Regions from separate parts of the Homo sapiens genome. Here all the other regions are linked to region 1. Evidence: fine-mapped expression QTL. A gene starts in region 1. Each other region holds a variant in brackets. All regions are shown on one strand. Distances are from middle to middle. Region 1 holds the start of ANTXR2 (ANTXR cell adhesion molecule 2). Region 2 has its middle 56 kb from the start of ANTXR2. Region 3 holds the start of LOC107986294 (a long non-coding RNA gene).

Evidence for each region. PIP is the estimated chance that this variant, and not a neighbour inherited with it, causes the effect.
Region 2: its variant is the best candidate, but not a certain one, in a credible set for the expression of ANTXR2 in whole blood (TOPMed, PIP 0.82).
Region 3: its variant is the best candidate, but not a certain one, in a credible set for the expression of ANTXR2 in whole blood (TOPMed, PIP 0.70).

Annotation. Positions count from the first base shown.
Region 1 is chr4:80,067,712-80,078,572 of GRCh38, reverse strand. It overlaps ANTXR2 (ANTXR cell adhesion molecule 2), which reads left to right and starts at 5,344. Exons shown (of 17, transcript NM_058172.6): 1 at 5,344-6,164; 2 at 6,919-6,990; 3 at 9,066-9,137. The coding sequence starts at 6,013. RefSeq lists enhancers at 1,025-2,224, 4,995-5,274, 5,605-5,714 and a silencer at 5,895-6,054.
Region 2 is chr4:80,124,228-80,135,088 of GRCh38, reverse strand. No RefSeq gene overlaps it. Among named protein-coding and RNA genes, the nearest start is that of ANTXR2, 56 kb to the right of the region's middle. RefSeq lists a cis regulatory region at 7,487-7,624. The variant C/AACAACC (reference allele first, on the strand shown) is at 6,811.
Region 3 is chr4:79,554,710-79,565,570 of GRCh38, reverse strand. The region is part of intron 3 of LINC00989 (long intergenic non-protein coding RNA 989); the gene reads right to left. LOC107986294 (a long non-coding RNA gene) reads right to left here and starts at 3,416. Exons shown (of 7, transcript XR_007058155.1): 1 at 3,270-3,416. RefSeq lists enhancers at 5,047-6,042, 6,043-7,040. The variant G/A (reference allele first, on the strand shown) is at 5,518.

The DNA of each region.
Region 1 (10,861 bases):
TTGGATATTCTAGATGCTGTGGTTGTAGGTGCTGTAGTTGCATCACCTAGATTCCTCCTTCAGGGCTGAAACACTAATTTCCCCACAGCCAGGATTTTGCTGTTGACAGCTCACAACTGAGTCCCTCCTCATAACTGCCCCAAGTCAAAAGAAGCTGCCATTGCTTAAGGTTATGCCTTTCCCCTGTAGAGTGGAAGCCCACATTTAGTGAGTGATCCATGAGGGGTAACAAACACTGGCTCCCTTGTCTCACTCAATTCAGGACAACTATGAAAGGCTATCACAGCTCCAGAGTTACCTTTGGTGGTTGCCTGAAGCCTCCTTCGGAATTCCATCATGGTTCAAGTTTCTCTCTGACAGTTCCTGCTTCCCTCATCCCTTCGTTGAGGTTTTGCTGCATGCCTCAATATATCTCCTGCATGCAAATTTCTGAATCTCAAGTCTGTTTCTGAGAAACTCAATTTGAGACACATTTGATCCCAAATGCAAATGTTAGTAATCATTCTCTAACATTAGTTAGCACCCCCTATTGTCATACATAGAGATATTAATTTAGAGGCAATTGCACCTTCCAAAGGCATTGTATTCACTCTCAGGAACTAGTTCAGACATTGACGAAATCTAGTTCTTTAATGACTATGCCTGATAAAAGTTGAAATAAGCTTTATCACTTATAGGTAGTGAAGATTTATTTTCTTCCTCTGAATCACTGTAGATATCATATAATGAATCATTTCCCATGTGACATGAATATGAATCATTTTCAGTATGGTACTCAACTTCCGGGAGAGTCACGTCTGTAGTCGTGTATGCCACAAAAGATGTCTACTTGCAAATAATATAGATTATATAATTTTTTACACATAAAGAATACTTTTATTGTCGTTGCTTATTTGCCTTTCTGTTAGTTTATTTGTTGGGGTATGGGGTGATGGAAATAAATTCACGACAGGAGATTGAAAACGCAAACTGCTTGAGAATAGAAAGTCTAACATTTGTGCTTAAAACATTACCTGATACATAGTAGGTATCAGTAAACATTCATTAAGTATAATAAAAGACCAGTAAATAAGTAATTAAATATAATTTAACGTGTAGTCCATTGGAGCTCTGCAGGTAGGAAAAAAAGGACAATGAGAGGGGGGTCTAGTGAAGACTTTAAATCATCAAGTGTCAATCTCAAGCTATTCTAACTGCATTAAAATGAATTTAACATGTTTTGGGGTTCATTAGCATTTTTATTAATAAGTTTGATTTATTTATTTATTAAGAAGTTTGATTTAATACAAAGAATAATTTTCAAAGAGTGGGGGCATTCATGGATTGTAAAGCCAAATAATTCAGTGGAAATACAAATAATTTGATAAAAGAGACTTTTTTAGATTTATTTACCTACATAATGCAGTATAGAGTCTCTTTTTCTCTCTCTCTCTTAAAAAATCTGCATTATCCCTCCCATTCTTGATGTCAGATTGAAAGTTAAGCAGGGTCCCAGCATGACTGTCATGGTACAAAAGTCAGTTTGAAACCTTACCTGGCTATTCTCCAGCTGATACAATTCCCAGAGTGCTCTCACTGATGAAGAAGGGAAAGTACTGCTGTTGCTACCACTTCTTTTTCATGGCTTGGAGAGATTTTCATGTCTGCTTTTGCTTTCATCTTCCCTCATTATTGCTTAGGAAAAGAATGACCAACAGTTTTGCTTGCCAGGAACTATCCCAGGGACTGCCCTAGTTTTAGCATGGAAAGTCCCATGTCCATGAGACTGAAGACACCCCTCAGTCTGTGACAAATTAGGACACTTGGCTGCCCCAGTAATTAATGATCTTCTGATTAATTTTTATTAAATGAAAGTGATTTGATTAGTTATTGGTCTGAGGCCATTTTTTGCTTTGCTGTAGATCTTACATGAGCAAGTCAGTGAGATGCAAAATGCTCCAGGACTGGGATGAATTCTTTACCCAAGCAAACAGATAAACAAAAAAGTGCTACTATTTTTCTGGTATGTCAATATTCTCTGCCAGCCTTGTACTCAAGAAAGAAGAACTGAGTGGGAGTACTCTCAGAAGGCCTGGAAATTTTGAGGAAGAATGAGTTTTAAATTGAGGTATTTTGCTTTAGTTTGAACCTAGGACAAGATGGATTCTTAGACCAGTTTGGGAAGTCCCAGAAGATGAGCAGGTAATTAGTCAAGACTAGGGATAAAGGAAACCAACAAATGTGAGTTTAAAATACTTCCTTAGGAGGACAGAGTACATGGTTAGTATCATGTCTCATATTTCTTTGCCTTCTGTCTCCTTCTAACATGAAACCAATTGTCACTTTTTTGGGGGGATACATTTTTTCCCCAGATTTTATTCAATAACATGCTGATGTGGCATATAATATCTTTGATTCTGTCTTAAGATTAAAGTTGAAAATGGAAACCAGTTTCAACCAGCAATGAATACAAAACCTTGAAAGATGAACAAGCTGTTGATACAAATTTCCTGAAAATGTCAGCCTGTTTCAGTTCTCTTATGGGAAGTCAGGGAGATTTATGTATTCAGGTTGGACCAAAATGTGAAATGAGAAGTGGCAACACATACCTGGAGACTGGAGGGCTGCAGAAGTAATCAGTATTTTAGAACCTCAAGAAAAGATGAAGCCAAGGAGGACAGAATTAAGGTGCTTTAAGGACTTTCTTAATTAGTCTCAGGACTAATTAAGGACTTGCTTCTAGTGCTTAATTATTTGAAAATTATGAAGGCTGTATGTTTCCTTCTTACAAAAGTAAAAGTTATCTTCCATCTAGCTAGCCCCTTGCCCCTCAGTATCTTCCTCACTCCATCAGGTAAAAAGTGGCAGATTGATGCAGTTGATAGTGGTGGAATTTCCATCCCCAAGTGACCAGTTGGCAAAGAGTGAGAAGGGATGTTAGCCACCCTCCATTCAATGTTTGACATTTGTAATGAGCATATTTTCAAAATGGAGGTCTGCCGGTATATATTGAAGTTTTCATCCATTCATAATTCTCAGGTTAGTTGCTATAGTGATGATGGTCCAAGGTACCATTTTATTTTGCCTTTGTTAAAATAGAGATGATAAGACTGACAGAATGTACTCTGTGTTCATAAGACACCAAATTATAAACAAGACCTAAGACCATGCCAGGCAAAGGTCAAGTCACACACTCCTACACTTAAAAAATAAACTATATTCTAACTGCCAAAAGGGTTTTCTTTTTCTCTAGCATCTAAACAAACACTGGCCTCCAGATAAGCAATATTGAAACAATTGCATCTTACTGACTGCAAGACACTAACTAATTAATCCTCCACCCCTACCCCTGTTCCACAAGCCATAACTACAGCTCTGACTGGACAAGAGACTGATTTTAATAACTCTCCTGATAAGAGACCACTGACCATAGACTGGTTCTGGCTGGTTTACAGAGGCTGTGGCACTGAGTGCCTTCATGTCTTCTGTTTCACCTTTTGACATATAGGGCCTAATTATAATACATTTAATTGTTAAGTCTCCACCTCAAAGTGAACATGAGACATATGCAACTTGCATGTTTGCTTACTATTCATGTTTGCTTACTAAACATGCATGTTGCATATGTCCCATGTTCACTTTGATGTGGAAACTTAACCCACCTGCTTCAGAAATATGCATAGTTCATGTACCCCTTGCTTCAGAAATATTCATAGTTCCTCCTATAACCTGTTGAATATGTATACTTGGCCAACTCATTTAGCATAAATTCCTGTTCCACCCTTTCCTCCCTCAAAGTGCCTGCTTTTTGTCTCTGCCAGAGGCTACACTTCCCAGCCTGTCAAGATGTCCAGCCTGCAGCTGTAACCCTTTATAAGAAATGAAGTTCTCCTTTCCAAATTTATGAACCTCAGGATTGTTTGTCAACATGTTGCTACTGCAATAGTCTCCTAACTGCTCTCCCTGTTGTCACTGTTGCTAACTCCAAATTCATTGTCTCATTGCAGCCAGAATGATCTTTGAAAAACACAGATCATATCAATTCATCTGCCACTCCACTCCTGGGCTTAAACCCCTCTAATAACCTCCTGTCACACTCAATATTAAATATCTGAATTCCTTATCTCAGTAAACAAAGCATCACATAATCTGGCCCTTGCCTATTTGTCTTACATCATCTTACCTGCAAAGCTCCAGCTACACAGTTTTTTTTTTTTCTTTTTTGAATATGCTAAGCTAATGTCTATGGACCTTTGCAGTAACTCCAAATGTTTCCCCTTAGAGCTCTTGGAATGACTGGGTCTTTTTTGTTAGTCACTGAGTCTGTCATTCTTTATCATCACAATATTTTAAATTTCTACAGGCCACCTTTCCAATATGGACATTTTTTTTCCTTGCTTATGTATTTATTTCTTATTGTCTGTTTTCACTCTTCAGCCAGACTGTCAGCTTCATGAAAGCAAGGGCTTGTTATCTTGTTCTGTGCACTAACCTCCACTTCTGGAACAGTGCCTAGCAAATAATAGGCACTCAATGAATCTTTGTTAAAGTAACTAATTTTTATCTTCAAAGAGCTGACATATCTGGTTGTATATCAAATATAATAAATGAAAAGTTAAATACATATGGCAACAAACAGAAGAGATGTATATGTAAGTACTACATAAAGCATTGATTTTGTTAAAAATGAAAAGGTATTTAGGTTCTAAAAGCCAGTTTTGACTAAGGGAGGGCGGAAGTCACGGAGGTGGGGGGAAGAGAGAGGAGGGAGAGCAGAACTAGTAGACAGAGGATTTGTGCACAAACTTGAGTGCTTGCACAAGTTTTGCAAAGGAGACCTAGCTTGCCCAAAGCTGAAATTCTCCAAAACTGGAGCTTGCAGGGAAATGACAGTGGGCTGAAATATTTTGAGGTACAACTTTCCACTCCCAAAGAGGCCTGCTATCCCCTCCCACTCCCCACTCCGGCCTTTCCTTGGCTTGGCTTTTTTTAAAGAAAAAAAAAAAAAAAACTAAGCAGGTTTCTTTAGAAGAAAAAGAGGAAGTTCATAAAGAGTGTTTGTGGTAGTAGGGGTGGGGTGGAGTGAGGAGTGAGGAGGCCGTCACCTCCCATGGAATCCTTAGTCTTGGGTTTGTGAACCACGCATGGGGGCTGTTTTAGCACAGCTGCTAAAATAGGCCAGGCCTGCAGGACATACGGGTATGTTTAGTTTCTAGATAACTTTTGTTTTTCTAAACTCCTTCTTCCCTTTCCCAAATCTGGCAAGCGTTAGTCATCTTCAACTCGGCAGGAACCCACAAGTGTGCATGTGTGGCTCGGAGGCTTCAGCTGGGGCCCCGCCCTCGTCCCCAGGCGCACACTGACACACGCAGCCCAGACCCGGCCCGAGCGGGCTCCTGCCCTCGGCGTGGCTTCTCTCCAGCCGGGAGTCCCAGGGCCAGCTAGCCTCCTCCCCTAAAGGGGACGGCCTGTCAGCGCAGTGCCAGAGTCCAGCACCGGGAGGAAAGTTTCGGAGTGCGGAGGGAGTTGGGGCCGCCGGAGGAGAAGAGTCTCCACTCCTAGTTTGTTCTGCCGTCGCCGCGTCCCAGGGACCCCTTGTCCCGAAGCGCACGGCAGCGGGGGGGACTTCAGCCCTCCAGGCGGGGTGGGTTCCAGGTCCGGGTCCGAGGCGGGCGCTGGAGGCTCGGCCCCAGGCCGGAGAGGAACTCCTTTCGCGAGCTGTCGCCGTGGGCCCGCATTGTCTGCAGGAACTCTCCGGAATCGGGAGGGGGAGGACTGGATCGCGCTTCCACTGGGATTCGTCAAGAGTTCCGGCGGCAGCTGCGGCGGTGGCGGAGACTCCCTTTGTCCTCTCAGGACCTCCCTCTCTCCCTCCCTGTCAGCTGGTGGGTCCCGCTGCCGCAGGCGCCGGCGTCTCAGCTGCTCGCCGCCCCCCACCCCAGAGTGCGTGCCGGGTGACTCCCGCCACCTTTGCGACCCTCCTGAGCTTAGGGGACTGCGAGCGGGAGGGAGTCTCAGGCCCCCGGCCGCAGGATGGTGGCGGAGCGGTCCCCGGCCCGCAGCCCCGGGAGCTGGCTGTTCCCCGGGCTGTGGCTGTTGGTGCTCAGCGGTCCCGGGGGGCTGCTGCGCGCCCAGGAGCAGCCCTCCTGCAGAAGAGCCTTTGATCTCTACTTCGTCCTGGACAAGTGAGTGTGCGAGGGAGGTCCAGGGTCTCCTGGTGAGGGCGGCACTGGATCAGCTGGGGCTGAGGCTGAGATGCGTGTGCGCACCCCGGGGAGTGGTGTTGGAAACCCGCGGAGGGGTGCCCTGTTGCTGTCTTCTTTCAAAGGGCAAGCGCGTTCGGATCTGTGTGGGCGGAGATCAGCCGGGTCGGGGGTAGTGATTGGAGCCCCGGGCTACTTGGCTCTTTGGGGAGTTGGGGTATTCACTGTTTGCCAGTCTTTTGGCCTCTTGGGAAATGGGAGTGTGGCCTCTTGCGGGCCACGCTCCATCGGCCACAGAGTCCTTACCCACCTCCTCGACCCTGCTCGTACGCAGGCTAAAGTTTGCCTGGTTTTATCCTAATCATAGCGCTTTCATTGGAGCCAGGAAAAGCCTAGGGTTAACATGCCCAATGTGGTTTGCATTTCCTGCGAAGAAAGGCTTTTGTGTTTACTCTGAAGAGCTGGGTTCCACTCTAAACAATTAGGCAGGTATTTACCCACCCCAGAAAACGGGCTGACTTCTTCTTCTTCTTTTTTTTTTTGACGGAGTCTTGCTCTGGGACTGACTTCTTTAACTCTGGGTACCACCAAAGTTTCAGCTACAGATACCCTTACTTAGCTTGAAAAAGAGGCCAGGTGCCCCTATGTTCGTGGCATTGAAGAAGGAACCATTTCAAAATGTTTACTTTTCAGTTCCGTGTTTTGTTTCTCTGATCAGTTCAATTTCATCTTTCAGGTCTGGGAGTGTGGCAAATAACTGGATTGAAATTTATAATTTCGTACAGCAACTTGCGGAGAGATTTGTGAGGTATCTTTCTTACTTTACTTTTCTAGGCAGTGGAGAAGTAGAGCAAAGTGTAGAATTTCCCTTTTCTGAAACCTTTTATAGGAAAAACTTTTCCTGAAATGTTACTTTTAAGTGCCTCAAGGTCGTATTGCACACATGCTGTTATTAGGACAGCCCTTCAGTCCTTGAGGGCTTATTTCATCTGGATCCCAGAAACTTGGCTCAGACTCTGGGGAAGCATCTTCAAATACTATTCCAAATGTCTTTTTCTTTCCGAATTTTCATCTGTTTTGAATTTCAGTTATGCTTTCTCATAATTTATCACATTAAAAAAATAAATTTTATGCGAATAGTATCCATAATATATTTTTCTTTCCACACATTTCTTAGCATTATAGAGGCCCTCATTAAAACAAACAAAAAGTGTTGGAAAACTTCAAATGAACATGTGTTAATAACCCGCTACCAGAAAAGGCACTTGTGTGTGTGTTTAAAGCAACGACTTGTGTTTACACAATGTGTGGGTGTGTGGTTGGTTTAAAATTTAACTGTTCTATATATGCAATAAGCATCACCAGGAAAGACTGGTTTCCTCTCCTATAAAAAGCATTACTGGTATGAAATCCAGCTTACTCTCTTATTTAGAGGTAACTAGGAATTAGTGGCATCTCCTATTTAAAAATAACCTCAGGACACTAGGCTTTTGAGGCTTTTTTTTTCCTTCTTTTTTTTTTAAAGAAAAAATGCAATGAGCAAACACAAGTTTATCAAGATAATGGAAAGGACATGAATAGGAACTGTATCATTAAATATTGCTTCTTTCAGTCTTGTTAGCCCAAATGTTTTCTGTAAAACAGGCTTGGATGATCAAAACATTTTGAAAGTCATGTTGCAAGTAACTTCAAACAATCTGTAGAGGCCTAGGCAATCCTTGCTTTCAGTTATTGGCAGCAGTAAAGTTATCCCTATAAAAATGTATGCCTGTCCATGTTCAATCATCAGTCCCTTGCTTAAGAAGCCAAGTTTAACACTCATTTCTGGACAGGGTCTGAGGTAAAACTGTCTAGGAAAGAAAAACAAACAAGATCCTATGTCCCTAAATGTCAAAGGCAGAACAGACAGTTGTTTATAAATTTTCTAATTTAATCCTTCAATGTGAAAAGGGTGTCATGTAGATTTTGATCAAAAGCAATGAATCACATCACTACAACATTTTAAAGAAGCAAGCTCTTATCTTAACTCATTGATCTGGTTTTTAAGTTGGAATTCTATAATACACAGTTGTCTGGCTCAAGCCTAGTTGCTCAATTACTAACAATACATTGTAGGAAGTGAATAAGGGGTGACTAATGAAGAGACTGACTTTTAAAATATGTATAAGCCTTTGAGAGGATTCTGATTTTCAGTTTATAGATTCTAGTTTCATATCTTCAGTTTTGAATCTTAGTAGTAGTTGCAGAGAGTGTCCGAGAAGCAAGAACCGTTCTGTGAGAGACATGCCTAAAACTTGAAAGATATAGCTGACTGGGGCACTTGTTGCCAATGGAAAATAGCATGTTTGAGACTTAGAAAATAAAAAATGCCTAAGCAGAAAGTGATTTATTGTTTCTTTCACATTTTCCATGACTCTTTAAGTAGTCTTACTTCAGGATGACTTTTTTATAGACTCATATCATAGTTATGGTCATTAAGTCAAACTGGGTACTCTCCACCCATAAGTGTTGATAACCATAATCACTTTGAAGGGCCTGGCCACCTTTAAAGGAAATGTTGTAGAAAACCAAGGGAAGAGGAATTTTCTACGAAAGAATTTTACATCAGCTTAGAATTTATCTTTCCAGTTAGTCTCTCTCTAAATGCAAGTCCTTATGGGTCATGGAGGAGTATGTGAGTGCTGGGAAGCGTTGACTAAATCCAAAATGACTTATGCAACAATGTTAAGCAGAGTTCGTCTATTTACTTAGGGAATGTCATTTAAAAGAAGCCTGGACCATTCAGTGAGACCAATTTTAAATGAACCTCCCTAACTATACATCTGTATCGTATCAATATTTCTTTTTAAAAATGTTTTAACTGCCTCTTTTCTTATTTTGCAGCCCTGAAATGAGATTATCTTTCATTGTGTTTTCTTCTCAAGCAACTATTATTTTGCCATTAACTGGAGACAGGTTAGTGCATTATCATTTCACTGCAGGCTTTTAGTAGAGATGAATTTTAAAGGCATGATTGATATTTCCAAGTGGTGATTCAGGCCTCTCAGTGGAATCAAGCAGATGCACAGACAATTCAGTTCTCTAATAGAAGGGAAAGGAGGTATGAGTAATATAAAAGAGCAGTTAATCTGAAAATCAATATCATTTATAGTGGCTGTGGAATGTGCAGTGAAATCTAGATCCCTGTCTTAGTTGTATATTCACCACTTCCTACCTTCCCCGGCCTCTCTGTTACTGTAAGTAGTTCTACATTTTTCTTGTTTAGATATAATATATTAATCAACCAGGAATTTGAAGAACATTGAGGGGGAGAAAGATATGGATCCTTTTGGATAATTTCCTAGATTCAGTAGACATCCTGGATTTCTGGTCTTTCTCTGAGGTCCATTAATGCTGAATATATTCACCTTTATAAGGGAACTTAGTATATATCAATATGTATACCAATATATCTCTATATCTATCTACCTATCTATTTAATCTCCTTAGTGTTTTTTAAAAGGTGTCTTTTTCAGACCAATGTCACAGTATTTCATATGACCATTTCTGTGTCATTCAAACAGTGTCAATGACAAGTTAGAAATAGTCATTGATATATTTTATGTTATTTTTATTTTTTGAGACAGAGTCTCTCTCTGTTGCCCAGGCTGGAGTGCAGTGGTGCTATCTTGGCTCACTGCAGCCCCCACCTCCCAGGTTCAAGCAATTCTCATGCTTCAGCCTCCCGAGTAGCTGGGATTATAGGCACATGCCACCACACCTGGCCAATTTTTGTATTTTTTTAGTAGAGACGGGGGTTTCACTGTATTGGCCAGGTTGATCTTGAACTCCTGACCTCAAGAGATCTGCCTGCCTTGACCTCCCAAAGTTCTGGGATTATAGGTGTGAGCCACCACACCCCACCTCACTGACATGTTTTAAAGAATGGGATCCATAGTGGGAGGGAGCTTTTATTCTTCATTTTTATGTCTACTTTATTTAACAGAGTATGTAAGCCAGTTTTTGGTCAATAAATTCTTGTTGAATGAATGAATGAGTGGTTTCCTGTTATTTTGAAATAAAATTTTTCTGAACTGTAGTTTCAGCAAGGGAAGCTGGTGTACTTTGTTTTGCATGATATGTGAATTTCTGAAAAGTTAACTGTAAAAACAGTTTTTTGTAAATTAAGTTTTCCCTTGAAAAGGTCAAGAAATCATAATATCTAAAGGAACTGGGGGAGAGAACTTATTTATAATTCACTTAATTGATTTAGAAAATTATCCGTATAAGATTTTAATCTTTGTGCTTTTAGTTTTCCTTTTCCTAGAGAGGAAAATCTCCCTGCAGATGCTGAGTGCAGCCTAGGATCTTGTCTTCCCATTGATACTTCTCCTTTCTTTCTTCTTTTTAAATTTAATTTAATTTTAATTTTAAGTTCTGGGATACATGTGCAGGGCATGCAGGTTTGTTACATAGGTAAACGTGTGCCGTGGTAGTTTGCTGCATCTATCAACCCATCACATGCATTAGCTATCTATCCTGATGCTCTTTCTCCCCTGCACCCCTCACAGGCCCCAGTGTGCGTTGTTCCCCTCCCTGTGTTCATGTGTTCTCATTGTTCAGCTTCCACTTACAAGAACATGCAGTGTTGGGTTTTCTGTTCCTGTGTTAGTTTGCTGAGGATAATGGCCCTCCTTACT
Region 2 (10,861 bases), 57 kb before region 1:
AGGTTAAAAGTATGATTGCTCAAGGAGAAACAAACAAGAGGGTTTTATTTTCATCTCAAAAGGAGGTATTTAAAATATGTCTCCTTACCCCCAAACATAGTTATTTTCAGTCACTGAATTATATGTGGACTTGGCTATACCAGCAAAAATATAAAAACACACTTAAGAATTATATCCTTTGTTAATTTGCAATTTTAGTGGATATGGAAGTTTGGACTTACTGAGAAAGGAAGGACAATTAGATCTTGGGAAAAAGTAGATCAGGAGTGGTTTGACAAGAGAAAGGAATTGATTGCTCTGGAGGGAAACACTAAAAATTTTATGAAACACCTTCTACAGCATCCAAAGGGAGGACTTTTCAGAAAAAAATTAAAAGCAGAATATTAATATCATATATATTATTTTCTAAGTTTAAGAATGGAAGGTAATGTGTTTTGGATACTTCCTAATTATCTAGGGGAAAAATATATATTCTGGTGGTGGTACCACCTCTCTTTGCTTTATTTTCAGCAGTTCGGGTAGTATTCTATAATGAAAAGTGGAATTTATTAGACACTTCTCCCAGGACCCAAATCTCCTATCTTAATAAGATAAATTACTTTGTATTATTCTTTTACAGAACTTCTGTTTTTTGTTTCTGAATCCAAAACTCACTTAAGCACCTTCTGGTCAAAGAAAAAAGATTCCTAGAACTATGCTTTCAGTAGGTATATTTCCAAAGGACTAAAATAGTTTGTCTAATCTCCTCTATTTTTAATCCAATAGAAAGAAAAGCAAGAAAGGAGACATAAGTGTTACAGGTTTCCCCCAGAACTCTCCTCACTCCAGGTCAATTATGGCTGCTACCACCAAATAGAAGTAGATAGCACAGGTATATGCCTTGACCTTTTTATTTTATGATTACAATAGGTTCTCATCTTATCTCTACTGCCCCATGTCACTCCTAAGACAGCAGTTTCCAAACATACCAAGACCACTATTTTAACCTGAGACTAGAAGCATGGAATGACCTGAATTGGATTGAAATTGGTTTTCTCTAGATTGCTTTTTAGATAATTATAGATACCTGAATTAATCAAAAACATGCGCTTAAGCTTTGCAGAGCAGCTTGTCAAAGTCTGCCTGCTTAAGAATACCCTGTTTTTGCTCTTTTTTAAAATTCACTACAGAAGAAACATTCTTCTATGGTAACACATGATGAAAGTGACACTGATTTGGAATGTAAATATATGCAGGGTGTTTTAAACCGACAGCATTTTGTATGAAAAAAATACATTAAAAAATATATACTATCTTTGAAATGCAATTGACAGGATAAAACAATAACAATCATTCTATTCTAATTTCTAAAGTATACATTATAAGGGGATATTCACTCAAAGATATAATTTTTTACCTTGTAAGAAAAATGTCAATATTTTAGTTATGTTTTAGTACTTGACTAAGAAATGAAGCTAGTCGAAAAATTGACTTCTCTTTAAATCAAATCATACAAAATCGCTGATATTTGATTTTTTTAACCTACACAGGATAATTTCATGTAGTTCAATCTAACACATATGTCTTCTTCAAAGAGACATGAACCCCCCAAAAAGAATACTTTAAAAAAATCACAACTCTTGCCAGGTGCGGTGACTCACATCTGTAATCTCAGCATTTTGGGAGGCTGAGGCCGGCGGATGGCTTGAGGCCAGAAGTTCAAGACCAGCCGGGCCAACATGGTGGAACCCTGTCTCTATCGAAAATACAAAACTTAGTCAGGCATGGTGGCATGCGCCTGTAATCCCAGCTACTTGGGAAGCTGAGGCATGAGAATCACTTGAACCACAGGAGGTGGAGGTTACGGTGAGCAGAGATCATGCCACTGCATTCCAGCCTAAGCGACAGAACAGGCTGTCTGTTTTTTTGTTGTTGTCTCAAAAAAAAAAAAAAAAAAGAAAGCAACTCTTTTATGCTTTACATATTTTGCATAGCATAAGTTTTTAAATTCTACTACTTGTAATTTATTAGATATGTATTTGTTCAGGCAATTTCCCAGGCTACTTTGTGGAAATTGGAATGAAATATTTGGAATCCATATGGATTTAAGGCTCTAGTTTAGACTAACGTTCTCAACATTTTTAAGGTCTTGAATACAGCCATTGGTTTGTCAGGACAATTTAATGAGTTTTATTACATTTACACACCCATATATCCACCACCACAATCAAAATGTAAAATGTTTCCTTCACCCTACCTTCTGTTCCTTACAGCCAATGCCCCCATACCCAGAGGCAACCACTGATCTGATTTCTATTGCTATAGATTAATTTTGCCTTGCCTAGAACATGTAAAAGTGAGATGACACAGTACGTATGCTTTTGTTTCTGCCTTCAGCCAGCAAAATATTTTAGATTTATCCATGTTATTGTATTAGTAGTTTCTTCTTATTGCAACTCTGTAGCATTCCATTGAATGAATGCATTGTTATTTGCTTATCCATTCACCTTCAGATGGACATATAGGTTCTTACCAGTTTGGGTTTATTATGAATAAAGCTGCCATGAATAACTGTGTGTAAGACTCTGTGTCCATTTCTCTTGGGAATGTACTTAGAAGTGGAATTGCTTGGTCATAGAGTAAATGTATGTTTAACTTTATAATAAATTATCAAATTACTTTTCAAAGTAGTAATACCTTGATTTTTATTTCATAATCTCTGGATTCATTTTCTTGTTGCCATTATGACAAATTACCATAAATTTAGTGCTTTTAAACAACTGGTATTAATTATCTTACAGTCCTGAAAGTCAGAAGTACAAAATTAATCTTAGGGCTTGCTCCTTATGGAGGCTCTGAGGAGAGAATCCATTTTCTTGTCTTTTTAAGTTTCTAATGGCTACCTGCATGTCTTGGCTCACGATCACTACAGCATGTTGCTTCTGTCTTCACATTTCCTACTCTCTCTTTAATCTCCGAACTCCTTCTTTTGGGGAAGAATCCCTGTGATTACCTTAAGCCTGCCAAGATAATCCAGGACATTCCCTTATCTCAAGATCCTTAACTTAAATCACATCTACAAAGTCCCTTTTGGCACATAAGGTAATAGTCACAGGTTCTGCGGATTAGGATGTGGATATATTAGTGGGCCATTTTTCAGCCTACTACAGGCTCTAACTTTCTAATTGAATAGTTTTAATCAGAATACCCATATAGCCAAAACTCTGAGGTACATACAAAGTTTTTGGTATCACCTCCTCAGGCTTAATAGCTACTATTAATTGATGGCTACCATATGCCAAATGCTGTGCTGAGTACTTTGCACATAATCTTAACTCACACAACTATCCTGTCATATGATTTTAAATGTCCCCAGCTTAAGATGAAAAGACTGTGCAGACTTTTGTACAAGGTCACAGCATAACAGAGCTAGGATTGAAACCTGTTGCAGCTTTACATAAAGTCTATACTGTTAACTACTATGATTCATTGCATTTATCTCATTCAGTGTTTCTTATAATTTTTACTTTACTACTTAGTTTACTACTTAGCTTCATTTCATAGAGATGTTTCAACAGCATTTATTTGTAACCTTCTTAGTATGAAGCATTACAGCAGACACTGTCAGTAAAGAAAAAGGAATTGTTGCCAGCAATCCAAATTGGGAGAGTGAACAAGTATAAAAATTACAGTAATTGATATTTAGTGAAAGTACACATAAGAGATAGAAACAGAGTTATGAGACTTCAAAGTAGAGAAATCACATTTAGTTTTATATGGGGATGGTGGAGGAGGAGTATTGCGAATCTATGGGAAGGCAGAGGGTACTCATCAAGAAAGGCCTCACAGAGTACATACAATTATGAGATATTATTTTTAGATTTATTGAATCTAAATTTAGATAAATCTAAATACACTTGAAAAAGGTGTAAACTGCTATTCTTTACTGGGTCCATTTTAGCCATCATAACAACTTGTTTGTGTTCAATACAGTCTAAGTGGTTGGTACACAGTAGTTAGAAAGCTACTAGATTTAATTCTTTATAGCAGAATTATATCTTTAAATATTTCCCTATTTAGGTTGCAGACTATTGCCTTAAGATGAGAAACACAAGAGATCTCAGCAAGACCTAAGTCAAATTCTTGACTATTTCAGTTCTGAAGTAACAATAATTTTGATAATTTTAATAGTAAAAAAACTGCTTACTATATGCCACATACAGTCCTAAACACTATATATATTCCAGACACTGTACTAAGTGCTTAGCTTATTTAATCACAACAACCCTTTGAGACAGAAACTTTATTATGCTCTTTTTTCCAGACGAAGAAACTATACAGGTTGATTTATGTAACGTCAAATAGCTAGTATACATTTACACTGAGATTTGAACCTGGGCATTCTGGCCCTTGAAACCAAGTGCCTAATCATTATATATTACTGACTCTAAGAGTAGACTAAATAGACTATTACTACTCTACACCAGAAACTGTTAGCGGTCGAAAAGCCAGTGCTTTTGATTTACATGAGCCTTCTTGAGAGACAATATATTTTTCCTTAAAATTTCAAGAGGTAGATTTTGAACATCAAGAGGACACAGGATATGTAATTTATCCTGTGCATCATAGAGTTGACAAAAATGCAGGATGATATAGGATCAGGGTCTTTTTTGGTCACTTAAAGGAGATGAAAGTCTGATCAGCTGGTGGCAAAAGAAAAATCTGAGAAGGCCCTACTAGGGCTTTAATGGGTGCCAGAAAAGTTCCTGCTTACTTCCATTGTGTGTAGTGTAAACCTCATAGGGAGGACAAAAGAAAGCCTGGCTAAGTGTATGGGGATCCATAGCAGATGGAGCTTCAGAGGGTGCAGCTCCCAAACTGCAAAGTAAAAGACGTCCCAAGTCCAATATCATGCCTGAGTGACAATGGACCATTACTGAAGGAGGTGTCTGATCATAGGTCCAAAGACAACCTCTCAGAGCCCCCAGGTACTCTAGAAGCAAGGGCTAAATGTAGGCTGGTGTATGACAGGATACACTGTCCAAGCCAGGGCAAGCATCAAGGGACAGAATGGTACCCAAAGCCTGAATGAACAAAACACTCAACTTTGGCCAGTGTGGATGGAGGATGATGTCATACCTTATAGACATTCCAGTTCTGATCCTGGAGACAAAAAGTAAGACTCCTAGAATTTAGATTATCCTTAAGGGGAGGAGAAAGAGGAAAAACATGAAACAGAGTTTTAAACCAAAACAGATTCAGATATATCTGAAAGGGACTGAGCCACCTTGAATTAGCAAAGTTAACTTTTCAATTAGAACAAACTTGAGAAATAAGTAAATAATTTATAGAAAAACAATAAAAAGTGCATTTTAGAAAATCTTACTTTCGTTGCCTGAGCTTCACACTTCTTCTAGGGAGAGAAGAAAAAAAAAACGTTAACACAGTTACTAGGCTTGAAAAAGGCTATCTTGCTATAAACATTCTTTCCTCAAGATTTTAGACGTTTTGTTCATAGGTCAGGAAATTTAGCCCTAAGATATTTCAAGAGGTTAATCTTAGAGAATAAGTCTTCTCAAGATCATTGAGAAGATTATAAGAGGTTATATGTGTGAAAAGTTAGTGGAAAGTACTACGTGTAAAACACCATTGTTTTCATTTTTTAATTGGCAAAGGCATGATTAGTGGCAAAAACAGGGTCTGTAAACTGTATTTCATTTCTTTTACTATAATATCATAAACATTGTCTTCCATTTCCTCGAGACCAATTTTCCTTTTCTGCTCCAACTACTATAAAATGATAGTATCAGATAACAGTGAAAAGGAAATAACTCAGGTTCATCAGTCTTCAGTTCACACAAAACAAGGCAATATTAGGTGTCTGAGTAGTTGTTAATAGCAGCTTGACTATGTGAGTGTCACTGGGCTGTGAATATTTTCTGAAGTTCATCATGTTGGCAGTTTAATGTGAGATATTTTATAGGGGAGGGGTGGGTAGGAGAATATGCAGAAGATCTAGCTCCTATTTCCTGTTGATTGTAATCACATTTGTCACTCACCTGCTTGAACTGCTAAAACCCTTTAGGAGCCTGATTGAAGAAGCCTCCTGTTAAGTGGAAAAAAGTCTCTCCTGCTTCTTAGCAAATCACAGTAAACATGTCAACACATTATGGGATGCAGTAAACTTTTGAATATATGAACATCTGATGAGAAGATCTTTTTGATCAGAGCTTTAATGTTGGTTCAATAGGCAGGACTAGTTATCCGTTTTGTTTACTTTCAGGTATCTGAGGCAGTTATACACACATGCTGGGATTTGGGGTCAGTTCCCTGCGAAATGTATGGAAACACATTTAACACATAGACTTTTGAGTCTTCTCTCCCCGCTGACCCTAGTATTTTAAAACAGGATGTCCTGGCTCTAGGAAAGTGCCTCGATATTCTAAAATAGATACATTAAATACAGTACAAAAATGCAGTTGAATTTTTCTTCTGGATGTTTGTAGCACATTTGTGCAAATTGTAAATAATTTGTTTTGCTGAATTTTCTTTAGCACATTCTTAGTGAGATAGTAATATTTAATATCACTGACAAATATATTGGGCATCTCTAGTAAAAGTTTTTCTAATTATTTGGAAATGTAGACATTCAGAAGTTGTCATAGCTATAAATACTGATAATTTAAGAAAACAATAATTGCTCTGATGACCTTAGTTATAAGAATAAATATTCCTACTAATAATAACCACTGCTACATTTATTGAGCACTTGTTATGTTCTAGACATTGTTCACAACATTTTCCATGCATTAGCTCATTAATCACAACAAC[C/AACAACC]CTGAGGTAGGTACTACTATTATTCCCATTTTAAAGATAGGAAAACTGAGGTACTGAAACGTTAACTACCTTGCTCTGGGTTACATGGCTAGTGAGTATTAAAGCTGTAATGTGAACAGTTACTCTAACTCTAAAACCAGTACTCTTAATCACCAGGCTAATTATATTCTACTTTCTTCAGTTTTTATTTTTCATTTTCTGTTTTTTTCATCAGTCTCTCCAAATTCTCTTTCTTGCTCATCCTCTCTCTTTACCTGTACTATCACCATCCCCATTCATTTTGCGGGTATCCGTTGCTGTTCATCCTCCCCTTCTCATCCTCTCTTTCTTTCTCATCACACTACCTCTTCTGTCTAGAATTTCATCTTCCAAAGTCTTCTTCATGTAAAAAATATTTCACTAAACAAATACAAGTGTTTGTACCTGAGGTTTTAATTGGAGGCTTTGAAGAAAATAACAGGTTAGAATTGAGAGATTGTAGGTTCTAACATTAAGAGAAATGAGGGAGGAGACATTTTACCAACATTTGAGTTGAAGCTTCATCCAAAGGTATTTAAGGCATTGAGTTTCAATGGATATCCAATGTTCTGGCCCCTAATGTCTTTTCTCTTCACTGTTTGATTTCTCCAGGAGAATTAGGTGGCTGGTGTGGGGTGGGGGTAGGGGCAGGTAAGGAGAAGCAAAAATAAATACATAACAAGGCAGGATACAGAGGTGATTCACTAACTGTCAGGAAGTTTAAAGTGTGAACAAGACTGCCAGTAGGAAGTGAGTCACTAACAGGCAACCCAGGGGAAATCTCCCAAGAGAGAAGAGAAAAGTTAGTTGAAAGAGAGTTGACTGTTGGGAAAGTTATTAAAGTAAGGTCTTCAGTAGACACAGTAACTTGGAGGTTTGATGTATAACAGGGAGAGGCTATCTGATCCCTGATAGCTCCCTTGTTCATGCCGGAGTTTTTTTTTTTTTTTTTTTTTTTTTTTTTTTTTTTTTTAGTATTTATTTATTTATTATTTTTAGTAATTCTTTTCCTTCTTTTAAAATAAAAATAAGCTGTAAGAAATAAAGTTAATATTTATCCAGAAGTCTTATGCACTAGGTACTTTATATAAATCATTTTATCTTAAAAATAACTCTGTGAAGCAGACACAAATATTATCTGTATTTTCCAGATAGGAAAACTGAGAAGTTAAGTATCTTGCCCAAGAATACACAGGAAAGGATGTGGCAGATACAATATTAAACAAGACATCAGGCTCCAGAGTCTACCAGACCAACCACTTTGCAATATTGCCTCTCATTATTAATAAATGACTAATTTCTTAGTGAAGGCATGAGTAGATAAGGCTCTTTTTTCTCCTCATTTATAGAAAAACTCAGAGAAAGAATGAGACAGAGCGACTAGAAAGGAGGAGGAAGGAAGGTGAGAGAGAGTGACAATTGAACAAAAGAAAAGAGTGATGACACAAAAAATAACAATAGTCAATAACATTTTTATGTGTTTCTTCTGTTTCTGTGCCAGAAACTTTGTTAGGCAACTTGTATACATTACTTTATTAATCACTCCAAGCACTTCATATGTGGATGCTTTTATTTTACCTCCTTATATTTATGAAGATGTTGGCATGGAAAGTTAAGCAAATTGCCCAACATTATGTAGCTAATATATGACAGAGCTGGGCTTTGAACCCAGGCCCGGGGATCCTTTTCCTCAACCACATTACTGAGCAGACTGAAAAGAAACTCCTAATGATGACTGGGGTGAGGCTAGTCCTCTGTAAAGTTACCAAATTGATCATTGTTGGGGTCTTCAATTTTTTGTCCCCGTTTAATAATTATAGTCTAGATGATCTGAACCCCTCCTCCCTAAATTGTTATTGAGAACCACATGGTCAAGCTTAGATTAGGAGACAGTATGGAGAGCAGCTGTTAAAATTCCAGCAGTGGGGTCTTCAATTTTGTAATATTTGATAGCCTTAATGGCTGTTCTCCCCTCCTTTCTGCCCCATGAGTGGGTAGCAGAAATTCCTGAATGAGAACTGCAAGCTAAGAGTCAGGAGGACTGCTCAGCTGGAGGGTGGGCAATAAAACCCAGTATAACACAGCATGAAAATAGTTTTTGGGGAAAAGAGATGTTGGAAATATACAAGCTTCAAAGCCTAGAGAGAAGAAAATTCAGATTTTTTGGGGGGCAGGAAACAGTAGCTGATAGTAGATGTGGTTATGATGTCACCAGGACTTCACCCAAATTAGCTCTTCATGACTTTACCTAGTGCCGCAGATGAAAGGAAATTAGATTCTCAAAGACTCAGGAGGATTAGAAGCTGAAGGCACTATTTTATTCTAAGCTGGAGATAGAAACAAGATAGGTCAGACCACAAGGGTCTGAAACCAGACTTCACAGGCTAGACTAAGGCCTGTTAGTTGAAAAAGCAATACCCCTGGCAGGGAAAAGCAGAATTTTCCGAATCTTGTAGAGGCTTGGGTCATATGCAGTGGTTTGCATCTGTTGACCACTCAGGATCCCGGTTACAAATACCTTCAAGGCAAATTATCCTCAGATGTCAGCAACATTTATTCATTTGTTCATCAAACATTCATGTTCTTGTAACGTGCCAGCCATGGTGCTAGGTGCTGGGTATATAGTAGAAAATGAAATAAATGTAACCTCTGCTCTCATGAAGTTTGCCATCTGGTGGAGAAGCCAGCAATTGAACAGATAAATACACAAAAACAAGTTTCAAGTTATAGAGAAATGAAGGAAAAGTGAAAAGTGCTTTGAGGAGAAGAAAGGCAGGGACATTGTACTGGACACAGAGATGAGCTATGCAGATCTTCCTTCAAGAAAAGACTTTCTGAGAATTTTTGCCTCTATGGTTATCAGTGACAGTGACCTGTAAGTTTCTTTTTCTGTTGAGTCATTATCTGGCTTTGTTATCAGGGTAATGCTAGCTACATAGAATGAATTTATGAAAGTATTCCCTCCTCTTTAATTTTTTTGAGAGTTTGATTCATTATTCAAATGTTTGGTAGAGTTCAGCAGTAAGCCATCAGGTCCTCAGCTTTTCTTGGATGGGAGACTTATGGCTTTTATTCTACTACTCATTGCTGGCTTGTTGAGGTTTTCTCTTGCTTCATATTTCAATCTTGGTAGGTTTTATGTGTTTAGGAATTTATCCATTTCTTCTAGGTTTTCCAATTTGTTGGCATATAGTTAGTTGCTCACACTAGTCTTGAATTATTCTTTGTATGTCTGAGGTCTCAGTTGTTATCTCTCCTTTTTTGTTTGTGTTTTTATATATTTATTTGGATCTTCTCTCTTTTTCTTTGTGTAACTAAACATTTGTTGAATTTTTAATCTTTACAAAAAAACAACATTTTGTTTTGTTGATATTCTGTATTTTTTTTGTCTCAGTTTTACTTATTTCTACTCTGGTCCTCATTATTTCTTTCTTTCTACTAATTTTGGGTTTGGTTTGTTCTTGCTTTTCTAGTTCCTTGAGATGTGTTTTTAGGTTGTTTATTTCTCCTTTTATGATATAGGTGTTTATTGCTTTAAACTTCTCTCTTAATACTGCTTTTGCTGTGCCTCATAGATTTTGATATGTTGTATTTTCATTTTCATTTGTTTCATTCTTAATTTCTTCATTGATCCATTGATCAATGCAGAGCATGTTGTTTAATTTGTACATGTTTGTGCATTTTCCAAGGTTTCTCTTGTTATTAATTTCTAGTTTTATTCTATTGTGGTAGTAAAGATGCTTGATATGATTTCTATTATTTTGAATTTGTTCAGACTTGTCTTGTGGCTTAAGATATAGTCTACTGTGAAGAATGTTCCATGCACTAGTGGAAAGAATGTATTTTTTTCAGCAGTTGAGCAAAATATTATGTAAATATCACTTGGGTCTATTAGACCTATTGTGCAGTATAGTTCCACTGGTTCTTCGTTGATTTTCTGTCTGGATGATGTTCCCATTACTGACAGTGTGGTGTAAAAGTCCCTTACTATTTTTGTATTGCATTCTATCTTTCCCTTTAGATCTTTTAATAC
Region 3 (10,861 bases), 510 kb after region 1:
TTCTAGACATTTATACAAAATATCCCATCATTAAAAGGTTGGCAAGTAATTCATAATTTTAAACCTATGTGAGTTAAATAGAATATGTCTGCTGAGTGGATATGGCTCACAAACTAACAGTGTATACCCTTCGTTATGGAGGAATGTCTCTTTGAAATCTGAATTTAGACTGTTCTGACTCCATAAATAATTGGATGACCTTGCATGATAGAATGTGTTCTGCAAGTAGGTCTTTCCTAGTTGTAATGCCTCGTTGGAAAAGACTGCAGAAGGGTCGTGTAGACTCTGTCTGGAAAGAAACTAGTCAAGGATAAATGCCGTGCAATCTGAAATGGATGGGCGATACGTTACCCAAGGTAATTAGTTAAAAATAAATAATCCACACTTCAAAAAATGTATTTCAAGACTCCAGTAATAGTTCCTCTGGGGACATCAAAGTCTGTGTGGGTGTTTCCCCTATGGAAAATAGTTGCTTTAAGTATGGCCACTTTTAATAGGTGATGAAAGTTTCTCTACACCACACTTCACATCCATCATCCCTGAGTCTTGTTTAAAGTTACAGCATGATCTATTTTGTGCTATGGAAAATCTAAAAGCACCTATACCATGTTTTAGGGAGAATAACTAGTGAAAGAGCTGTCTCCTTTCCCTAAGACCATATTGGAAATTCCAGCAATAGCTATCAGTGAAGAACTGTTGTACCCAGTAATAGAAATCTATTAATAGTAGGCCATAGCAAAGGCAGCAGCAAAACACAGCAATAAAAGGCAAGAGAACCCAATATAAAGAGTTTCCATGAATAAGCACACTGGGAAATCTCCCTAACCCCCAGATAACTGGGCATATATTGGCAATCTAATTTCTGGCAATAAAGCTTAAAGGGGAGTAATGCCATAATCATATGTATTTTAAAAATTGTTTCTTGTATTATACTTTTAGGATGATGAGGCTTAAAATATATAGGTTACACTCTACAACATAAATATTTCATAATATAATGCTCTGAATTTTGTGAAACTCAATTAACAATTTTATACTTCTGCAATCTAATGTTGGTATTTACTAATATCAGCATTACTGCTGTCAATTTTACAAGAATAAAGTATAAAATATGTGGCTTGTCGCCCATGTTTGCTTTTTGCTCAATTCATTGGTGCTATTCTTACAGCTTAGCACTCTGATAAACCCAAAACATTCCTTCTTCTCTTTGCCCTTCCAGAACCTCCTCTATAGCACCCCATATGCAAATCTACAAGATCACTTTACTAAAATAAACTGAATGAATGTTATAAGCTATATGAATAGCAAGATATAATATAGAATCTGTCCAAATTAAATGATTTGTTTCAAGATGTTGGCATCATCATCTTTTGCTTCTTAATAATCATAATATCCTTACAAAAGAAATCATCACAAAATGGGCACAAATACAGGATTTATATATTGTTTTTAAAGATCATCTCTGTTTATTGCAAAGCACTCACTCTTCCAAGATCTTCCACTGCCTTGTTTCTCTAGCTCTTCTGCAGATAGTCATTCTGTTTTCCATTCCAGTGTATCAAAAGAAACTTGAACACTATTTCTTACATTTTCATAATTTCATAATACAAAACATTTCTTAGACTGATTGAAATGACTCAAACAGACAAAGAAGAATTGGATGACCATGATTTTTAATGCTTTCTCATACGTCCACTTGGTCAGAATGCAATTTGACCAATGGACTCTTACACATATGCATGAATTTCTGCTATATTAAAAAATCTGTACAAGAGGCAGTGTGGGATATTAACTCAACTTCTTTTTAAATCTTATTGTCTTTGTCTATATTGTTTTGTTATCTATTCTAATAGACGATAAATAAGGCATCTCCAAGTTGTTATTCAATTAATTATTGTCTATTTTCATATCTTTAGAGAAATTCACTTTTGATGGCACTTTACTGAGAAGCAGTATATGGCTTTGGAAGAGGGAAGCCAGGAGGAACAGTCAACAATACTAGAGGGCTTTACCTCTTTAGAAAATGAGTAGGACAGGGAAAGACACATTCATTTCAGCTTGGATCATTACCACACTGGTTCTGTTCCTCTGTTTCTAGGTGATAGAAACAATTAAAATGGAAATCTGGTTCAAAGGAGATAAAGAAGAATAGGTCATTGCCCATCACTCTGAATATCCAGACACTAGTTCAGCGTGACTCATCTATCCACACTGTGAAACCAGTCTGGAGGGCTGAAGTTCTCACATATCTATAAATGATCATTTGTTTTATACTAAAAGCCTAGTATTATATCAGCTGTATTAATTACCACCCAAATTAAAGTTTAAATATTATTCTGTTTTCATTTTGATTGGGGGAGGTATGGCTGTGGGGTTTCTTTCTATTCTAGCAATGAAGAAAGACCAAGGTGACTTTGGAGAGGAAGTTGCCTTGTGATACTATCATTATCAGTAATTAGCCACAGTTAGTAAGCTTCTATTAATCAAATCCACATCTGGAAAGACTTTAACTAATTCTGTGAGATGAACAGTGTTTGCAAAATTTAAAGCATGGAAGGTAACATTGCATAATTTCACAAGCCAATGCAGGGCAGAAAAGAGAAAAAACTCTATCATTAAAGCATAAATAACCTTGTTTAATTAAGCCTATTATCTATAAAATTATATATAACATTTATATAAGTACATAGAATAATTATAACTATTCCCTTTAACAAAATTGGAAACTCAAAATAAAAAAAAATAACTTCTACATATATCCCTCTCATATATTAGTTAATGAGATGCTATAGCAAATGTCTAAGCATGTTGTAAATAAACAGGCAAAGGTAAAAATCTTAATTTTAAGGGACTGTGAGTGTAAATCCTTGGCATTTCTAGGCATGAGGGGAAATGTCCAAATTCTAAGGAAGAATGTAAGGGGTGAAGATGTGATATTACTATCCCTTTCCTCTGCCCTAGGAAAGGAGAGATGAAATACAAAGAGGAGGTTGGGCAGCTCCTACTCTCCTGTACCTTTAGCCAAGTGTTCTGGGGACACCAGAGAGGTACCAATCCATTCCAGAAAAAAAAAAGAAAAAAGTCTAAAACTTGGAATTTTTACTTTCAAACACAGAGCAATTTTATCCCTGAAAAAAATCTCCCCATTTGACTCATCTTAATATTAGCCAGCTTCACAACCCATGCGTACTAGTCAGGGTTCTCTTAAGGGAACAGAATTAATAGGATATATGTATATATGAAGGGGAGTTTATTAAGAAATGACTCACACAATCACAAAGTGAAGTCCCACGATAGGCCATCTACAAACTGAGGAGCAAGGAAGCCAGTCCGAGTCCCAAACCTCAAGAGCAGGGAAGCCAACTGTGCAGCCTTCAGTCTATGGCCAAAGGCCCGAGAGCCCCTGGCAAACTACTGGTGTAACTCCAAGAGTCCAAAAGTTGAAGAACTTGGAGTCTGATGTTCGAGGGCAGGAAGCATCCAGTGTAGGTGAAAGATGAAGACCAGAAGACTCAGCAAGTCAGCTCCTTCCACATTTTTCTGCCTGCTTTATTCTAGCCACAATGGCAGATGATTAGATGGTGACCACCCACACTGAGGGTGGGTCTGCCTCTCCCAGTTCACTGACTCAAATGTTTATCTCCTTTGGTAACACCCTTACAGACACACCCAGGAACACTACTTTGCATCCTTCAATTAAATCAAGTTGACACTCAATATTAACCATCATACCATGCTTTATTTAATTTTACTACCTCCTAATCCAAGACTTCCAAGAAACTATATTTATACCTAAATTAGCACAGCACCTACTGTATCTGCTTCCCGGTTTAGATGTAATGAAAAGAGCATAAAGTCTTGAGCCTACCATTTTCTAGTCAGGGAATATTGGGCAATTAATTAAACCTCACTGAGTCCTGTTTTTCTCTTCTACATTTTTTTGCAAAAGTCAAATCATTTTATGCTTTCTAAATTGCTCTACGAAGGAAAAATAGTAATATTCTCACAAAATAGATACTGCGGGATGATTGTATTTGCTTATATATTTTTTCTTTTATTGTTCTTTTTTCCTTCTGACTCTATCTGAAACTTGCCTCTTTCCCTAAGACATTATTTTCATCAGAGCATTGTCTCCTTCACTTTTTTTTGTCACCATGACCATGGAGGTATGGCAGATGTCTTCCTTGCTTCTTATAGCTACTTTCAGATTACTGTCTTCCCCTACTCCCTGAAATCCCTGGATTTTAAGCTTATACAATCAGAATATATCACTCCTATCCTTCCTAATAGATTTGCAGCACCTTGGTCCACTTGCCTTCATTCTGTAAAAATTTTAGTCCCCTATTCACGGTCATTTCTCTTAAATATTGCAGCTCTACAATCTTTGATTATTTTAAGATTCATAAAAACAATCTTTTCAATAACTTGTCCCTTCATTTATAAGTCAAATATTTGTTGAGTGCCTCAAATTTGTCAGGCCCTAATTTCAAGGTGGGAGATAGAGCAGGAAAGCAAAAAAAAAAATCACTGCTTTTAAGGAAATGGCATTCAAGTGGAGGAGATAGATAATAAATAAAACCAAAAAGTAAAAATATATAGTATTTCAGATCATGATAAGGGCTGAGAAGAAGAAAAAGATAAACCAAGAAACATAGCTATGTAATGTATATGTTTGGGGGTGGGGTGATGGGGCTTTGAAATTTTAAGAATGGTCAGAAAAAGTATCACTAAGAAGATGACTTCTGAATAAGGATATGAGGGAATTCAAAATACAAAGCCTTTTTAGCTTCTTGACCTTCTCCCCTCTAATAGTCTGTTGCCTACCCTACCTCAGCAGTATGTCCCCATAGACACAACTTATATCTTCTTGATACCAAGAAATGTACCCTTCCGTTCTCTCAGTTCCAAACCTGCCACTCTGTGATCACCACCCCTATCATTCCAACCCCTACCTTTGCGCATTCTAGCTCATACAGTCCTTCATTCCCACTGGATCTAGGGTTAGTTAGTTGTCTTACCAACTTTTTATTATTTCTCATCCCTCCTTTTGTTTTTACTTCCTTCCTTAATTAGTTGGTATTAATGGCCCACTACTAAAATCACTTTCTTGTATATAATATTAAGCCTCAACTGCCCTGCCTACTCCCTTTATTGTGCCCACTTGGCAGAATCCCAATCTTGATTAATCTACTCAATCTTGCATCTCAACAGCTAAATGTGATAATTACCTCATACATACTTTAATCTCCTCAAACCTGTAATAGTTTCTCTGACTCCCTCAAACTCAATTGAGGATTATGTGTCTTACGTTTCTGAGAAACTTCATTTCTGTATATTTCCAACATTACATTTACCAACCAACCCAAATACAGCTAATATACTCTGCCTTGTTGCTTCTCAGCAAGAATAAACTGTCCATGACTTATTTATTATTTACCTATTTATTTTTTTGAGATGGAGTTTCGCTCTTGTTCTGGTTGGAGTGCACTGGCATGATTTTGGCTCACTGCAACCTCC[G/A]CCTCCCAGGTTCAAGTGATTCTTCTGCCTCAGCCTCCCAAGTAGGTGGGATTCCAGGTGCATGCCACCACACCCAGCTAATTTTTTGTATTTTTAGTAGAGATGGGGTTTCATCATGTTGGCCAGGCTAGTCTCAAACTCTTGACCTCAGGTGATCTGCCTGCCTCAGCCTTCCAAAGTGCAGGGATTACAGGCGTGAGCCACCACGTACAGCCCATGACTTTCTTTAGGATGAACTCCTCCTTTAATAGACATAAATTATTCTCTAATCACATTAAATCCCTCATTTTACTAAATCCCCCATCAGCACACAAACATACTATAATATTTTATATCAAGAGAGAGTCAGGCCTCTGAGCCCAAGCCAAGCCATCACATCCCCTGTGACTTGCCGGTATATGCCCTGATGGCCTGAAGTAACTGAAGAATCACAAAAGAAGTGAATATGCCCTGCCCCACCTTAACTGATGACATTCCACCACAAAAGAAGTGTAAATGACTGGTCCTTGCCTTAAGTGATGACATTACCTTGTGAAAGTCCTTTTCCTAGCTCATCCTGGCTCAAAAAGCTCCCCCACTGAGCATCTTGCGACCCCCACTCCTGCCTGCCAGAGAACAAACCCCCTTTGACTGTAATTTTCCTTTACCTACCCAAATCCTATAAAACGGCCCCACCCCTATCTCCCTTCACTGACTCTCTTTTCAGACTCAGCCCGCCTGCACCCAGGTGAAATAAACAGCCATGTTGCTCACACAAAGCCTGTTTGGTGGTCTCTTCACACGGATGCGCATGAAATTTGGTGCCGTGACTCGGATCAGGGGACCTCCCTTGGGAGCTCAATCCCCTGTACTCCTGTTCTTTGCTCCGTGAGAAAGATCCACCTATGACCTCAGGTCCTCAGACTGACCAGCCCAAGGAACATCTCACCAATTTTAAATCAGGTAAGCGGCCTCTTCTTACTCTCTTCTCCAACCTCTCTCACTGTCCCTCAACCACTTTCTCCTTTCCACTCTTTAATCTCTCTCTTCTCTTAATTTCAATAACTTTCATTTTCTGATAGAGACAAAGGAGACACGTTTTATCCATGGACCCAAAACTCCGGCGCTGGTCACGGACTGGGAAGGCAGCCTTCCCTTGGTGTTTAATAATTGCAGGGACGCCTCTCTGATTATACACTGACGTTTCAAGGGTGTCAGACCACGCAGGGACGCCTGCCTTGGTCCTTCACCCTTAGTGGCAAGTCCCGCTTTCCTGGGGCAGGGGCAAGTACCCCAACCCCTTCTCCTTCACCCTTAGCAGCAAGTCCTGCTTTTCTAGGGGGCAAGAACCCCCAATCCCTTATTTCCACGCCCCAACCTCTTATCTCTGTGCCCCAATCCCTTATTTCCGCACCCCGACCTCTTATCTCTGTGCCCCAATCCCTTATTTCCACGCCCCAACCTCGTATCTCTGCACCCCAATCCCTTATTTCCATGCCCCGACCTCTTATCTCTGTGCCCCAACCCCTTTCCCCACTTTTCTGGAAGGTAAGATCCCCCGAACCCCTTCCCTCTGTTTCTCTACTCTCTTTTCTCTAGGCTTGCTTCCTTCACTATGGGCAACCTTCCACCCTCCATTCCTCCTCCTACTCCCTTGGCCTGTGTTCTCAAAAACTTAAAACCTCTTCAACTCACACCTGACCTAAAACTTAAATGCCTTATTTTCTTCTGCAATGCCACTTGACCCCAATACAAACTCGACAGTAGTTCCAAATAGCCAGAAAATGGCACTTTGAATTTTTCCATCCTGCAAGATCTAAATAATTCTTGTCATAAAATAGGCAAACGGTCTGAGGTGGCTGACGTCCAGGCATTCTTTTACACATCAGTCCCTTCCTAGTCTCTGTGCCCAGTGCAACTCGTCCCAAATCTTCCTTCTTTCCCTCCCACCTGTCCCCTCAGTACCAACCCCAAGCGTCGTTGAGTCTTTCTAATCTTCCTTTTCTACAGACCCATCTGACCTCTCCCTTCCTCCCCAGGCTGCTCCTCGCCAGGCCGAGCTAGGTCCCAATTCTTCCTCAGCCTCTGCTCCTCCACCCTATAATCCTTTTATCACCTCCCCTCCTCACACCTGGTCCGGATTACAGTTTCGTTCCGTGACTAGCCCTCCCCCTCCTGCCCAGCAATTTACTCTTAAAAAGGTGGCTGGAGCTAAAGGCATAGAGTCAAGGTTAATGCTCCTTTTTCCTTATCCCAAATCAGAAGCGTTTAGGCTCTTTTTCATCAAATATAAAAATCCAGCCCAGTTCATGACTTGTTTGGCAGCAACCCTGAGACGCTTCACAGCCCTAGACCCTAAAAGTTCAAAAGGCCGTCTTATTCTCAAAATACATTTTATTACCCAATCTGCTCCCAACATTAAATAAAACTCCAAAAATTAAATTCCGGCCCTCAAACCCCACAACAGGATTTAATTAACCTCGCCTTCAGGCATACAATAATAGAAAAAAGTTGCAATTCCTTGCCTCCACTGTGAGACAAACCCCAGCCACATCTCCAGCACACAAGAACTTCAAAACGCCTGAACCGCAGTGGCCAGGCGTTCCTCCAGAACCTCCTCCCACAGGAGCTTGCTACACATGCCAGAAATCTGGCCACTGGGCCAAGGAATGCCCGCAGCCCGGGATTCTTCCTAAGCCACGTCCCAGCTCTGTGGGACCCCACCGAAAATCGGACTGTTCAACTCACCTGGCAGCCACTCCCAGAGCCCCTGTAACTCTGGCCCAAGGCTCTCTGACTGACTCCTTCTCAGATCTTCTCGGCTTAGCGGCTGAAGACTGACACTGCCCGATAGCCTCGGAAGCCCCCTAGACCATCACGGACGCCAAGCTTCGGGTAACTCTCACAGTGGAAGGTAAGCCCATCCCCTTCTTAATCAATACGGAGGCTACTCACTCCACATTACCTTCTTTTCAAGGGCCTGTTTCCCTTGCCTCCATAACTGTTGTGGGTATTGATGGCCAGGCTTCTAAACCTCTTAAAACTCCCCAACTCTGGTGCCAACTTAGACAATACTCTTTTAAGCACTCCTTTTTAGTTATCCCCACCTGCCCAGTTTTCTTATTAGGCTGAGACACTTTAACTAAATTACCTGCTTCCCTGACTATTCCTGGACTACAGCTATATCTCATTGCCGCCCTTCTTCCCAATCCAAAGCCTCCTTTGCGTTCTCCTCTTGTATCCCCCCACCTTAACCCACAAGTATAAGATACCTCTACTCCCTCCTTGGCGACCAATCATGCACCCCTTACCATCTCATTAAAACCTAATCACCCTTACCCCACTCAACGCCAATATCCCATCCCGCAGCACACTTTAAAAAGATTAAAGCCTGTTATCACTCGCCTGCTACAGCATGGCCTTTTAAAGCCTATAAACTCTCCCTACAATTCCCCCATTTTACCTGTCCTAAAACCAGAGAAGCCTTACAAGTTAGTTCAGGATCTGCGCCTTATCAACCAAATTGTTTTGCCTATCCACCCCGTGGTGCCAAACCCATATACTCTCCTATCCTCAATACCTGCCTCTACAACCCATTATTCTGTTCTGGATCTCAAACATGCTTTCTTTACTATTCCTTTGCACCCTTAATCCCAGCCTCTCTTCGCTTTCACTTGGACTGACCCTGACACCCATCAAGCTCAGCAAATTACCTAGGCTGTACTGCCGCAAAGCTTCACAGACAGCCCCCATTACTTCAATCAAGCCCAAATTTCTTCCTCAACTGTTACCTATCTTGGCATAATTCTCATAAAAACACACGTGCTCTCCCTGCCAATCGTGTCTGACTGACCCCTCAAACCCCAGCACCTTCTACAAAACAACAACTCCTTTCCTTCCTAGGCATGGTTAGCGCGGTCAGAATTCTTACACAAGAGCCAGGCCCACACCCTGTAGCCTTTCTGTCCAAACTTGACCTTACTGTTTTAGCCTAGCCCTCATGTCTGCGTGCAGTGGCTGCCGCTGCTTTAATACTTTTAGAGGCCCTCAAAATCACAAACTATGCTCAACTCACTCTCTACAGTTCTCATAACTTCCAAAATCTATTTTCTTCCTCATACCTGATGCATATACTTTCTGCTTCCCGGCTCCTTCAGCTGTACTCACTCTTTGTTGAGTCTCCCACAATTACCGTTGTTCCTGGCCCAGACTTCAATCCGGCCTCCCACATTATTCCTGATACCACACCTGACCCCCATGACTGTATCCCTCTGATCCACCTGACATTCACCCCATTTCCCCAAATTTCCTTCTTTTCTGTTCCTCACCCTGATCATGCTTGATTTATTGATGGCGGTTCCACCCAGGCCTAATCGCCACACACCAGTAAAGGCAGGTTATACTATAGCACAAGCCACTAGCCCGCCTCTTAGAACCTCTCATTTCCTTTCCATAGTAGAAATCTATCCTCAAGGAAATAACTTCTCAGTGTTCCATCTGCTATTCTACTACTCCTCAGGTATTCTTCAGGCCCCTTCCCTTCTCTACACATCAAGCTCGAGGATTTGCCCCACCCAGGACTGGCAAATTAGCTTTACTCAACATGCCCTGAGTCAGATAACTAAAATACCTCTTAGTCTAGGTAGATACTTTCACTGGATAGGTAGAGGCCTTTCCTACAGGGTCTGAGAAGGCCACCGCAGTCATTTCTTCCGTTCTGTTAGACTTAATTCCTCAGTTTAGCCTTCCCACCTCTATACAGTCTGATAACAGATGAGCCTTTATTAGTCAAATCAGCCAAGCAGTTTTTCAGGCTCTTAGTATTCAGTGAAACCTTTATTTCCCTTACGGTCCTCCATCTTCAAGAAAAGTAGAATGGACTGAAGGTCTTTTAAAAACACACCTCACCAAGCTCAGCCACCAAAAAGGACTGGACAATACTTTTATCACTTTCCCTTCTCAGAATTCAGGCCTGTCCTCAGAATGCTACAGGGTACAGCCCATTTAAGCTCCTGTATAGAAGACGCTCCTTTTCATTAGGCCCCAGTCTCATTCCAGACACCAGACCAACTTGGACTGTGCCCCAGAAAACTTGTCATCCCTACTATCTTCTGTCTAGTCATACTCCTATTCACCATTCTCAACTACTCATACATGCCCTGCTCTTGTTTACACTGCCAGTTTACACTGTTTTTCCAAGCCATCACAGCTGATATCTCCTGGTGCTATCCCCAAACTGCCACTCTTAACTCTTAAATAAATAATCTTTGCTGGCAGGACTATGCTGAATCTCCTTAGGCAGTCTCTAATCAGATATCCTGAGTCATCCCAATTCTTAGACCTTTTATACCTGTTTTTCTCCTTC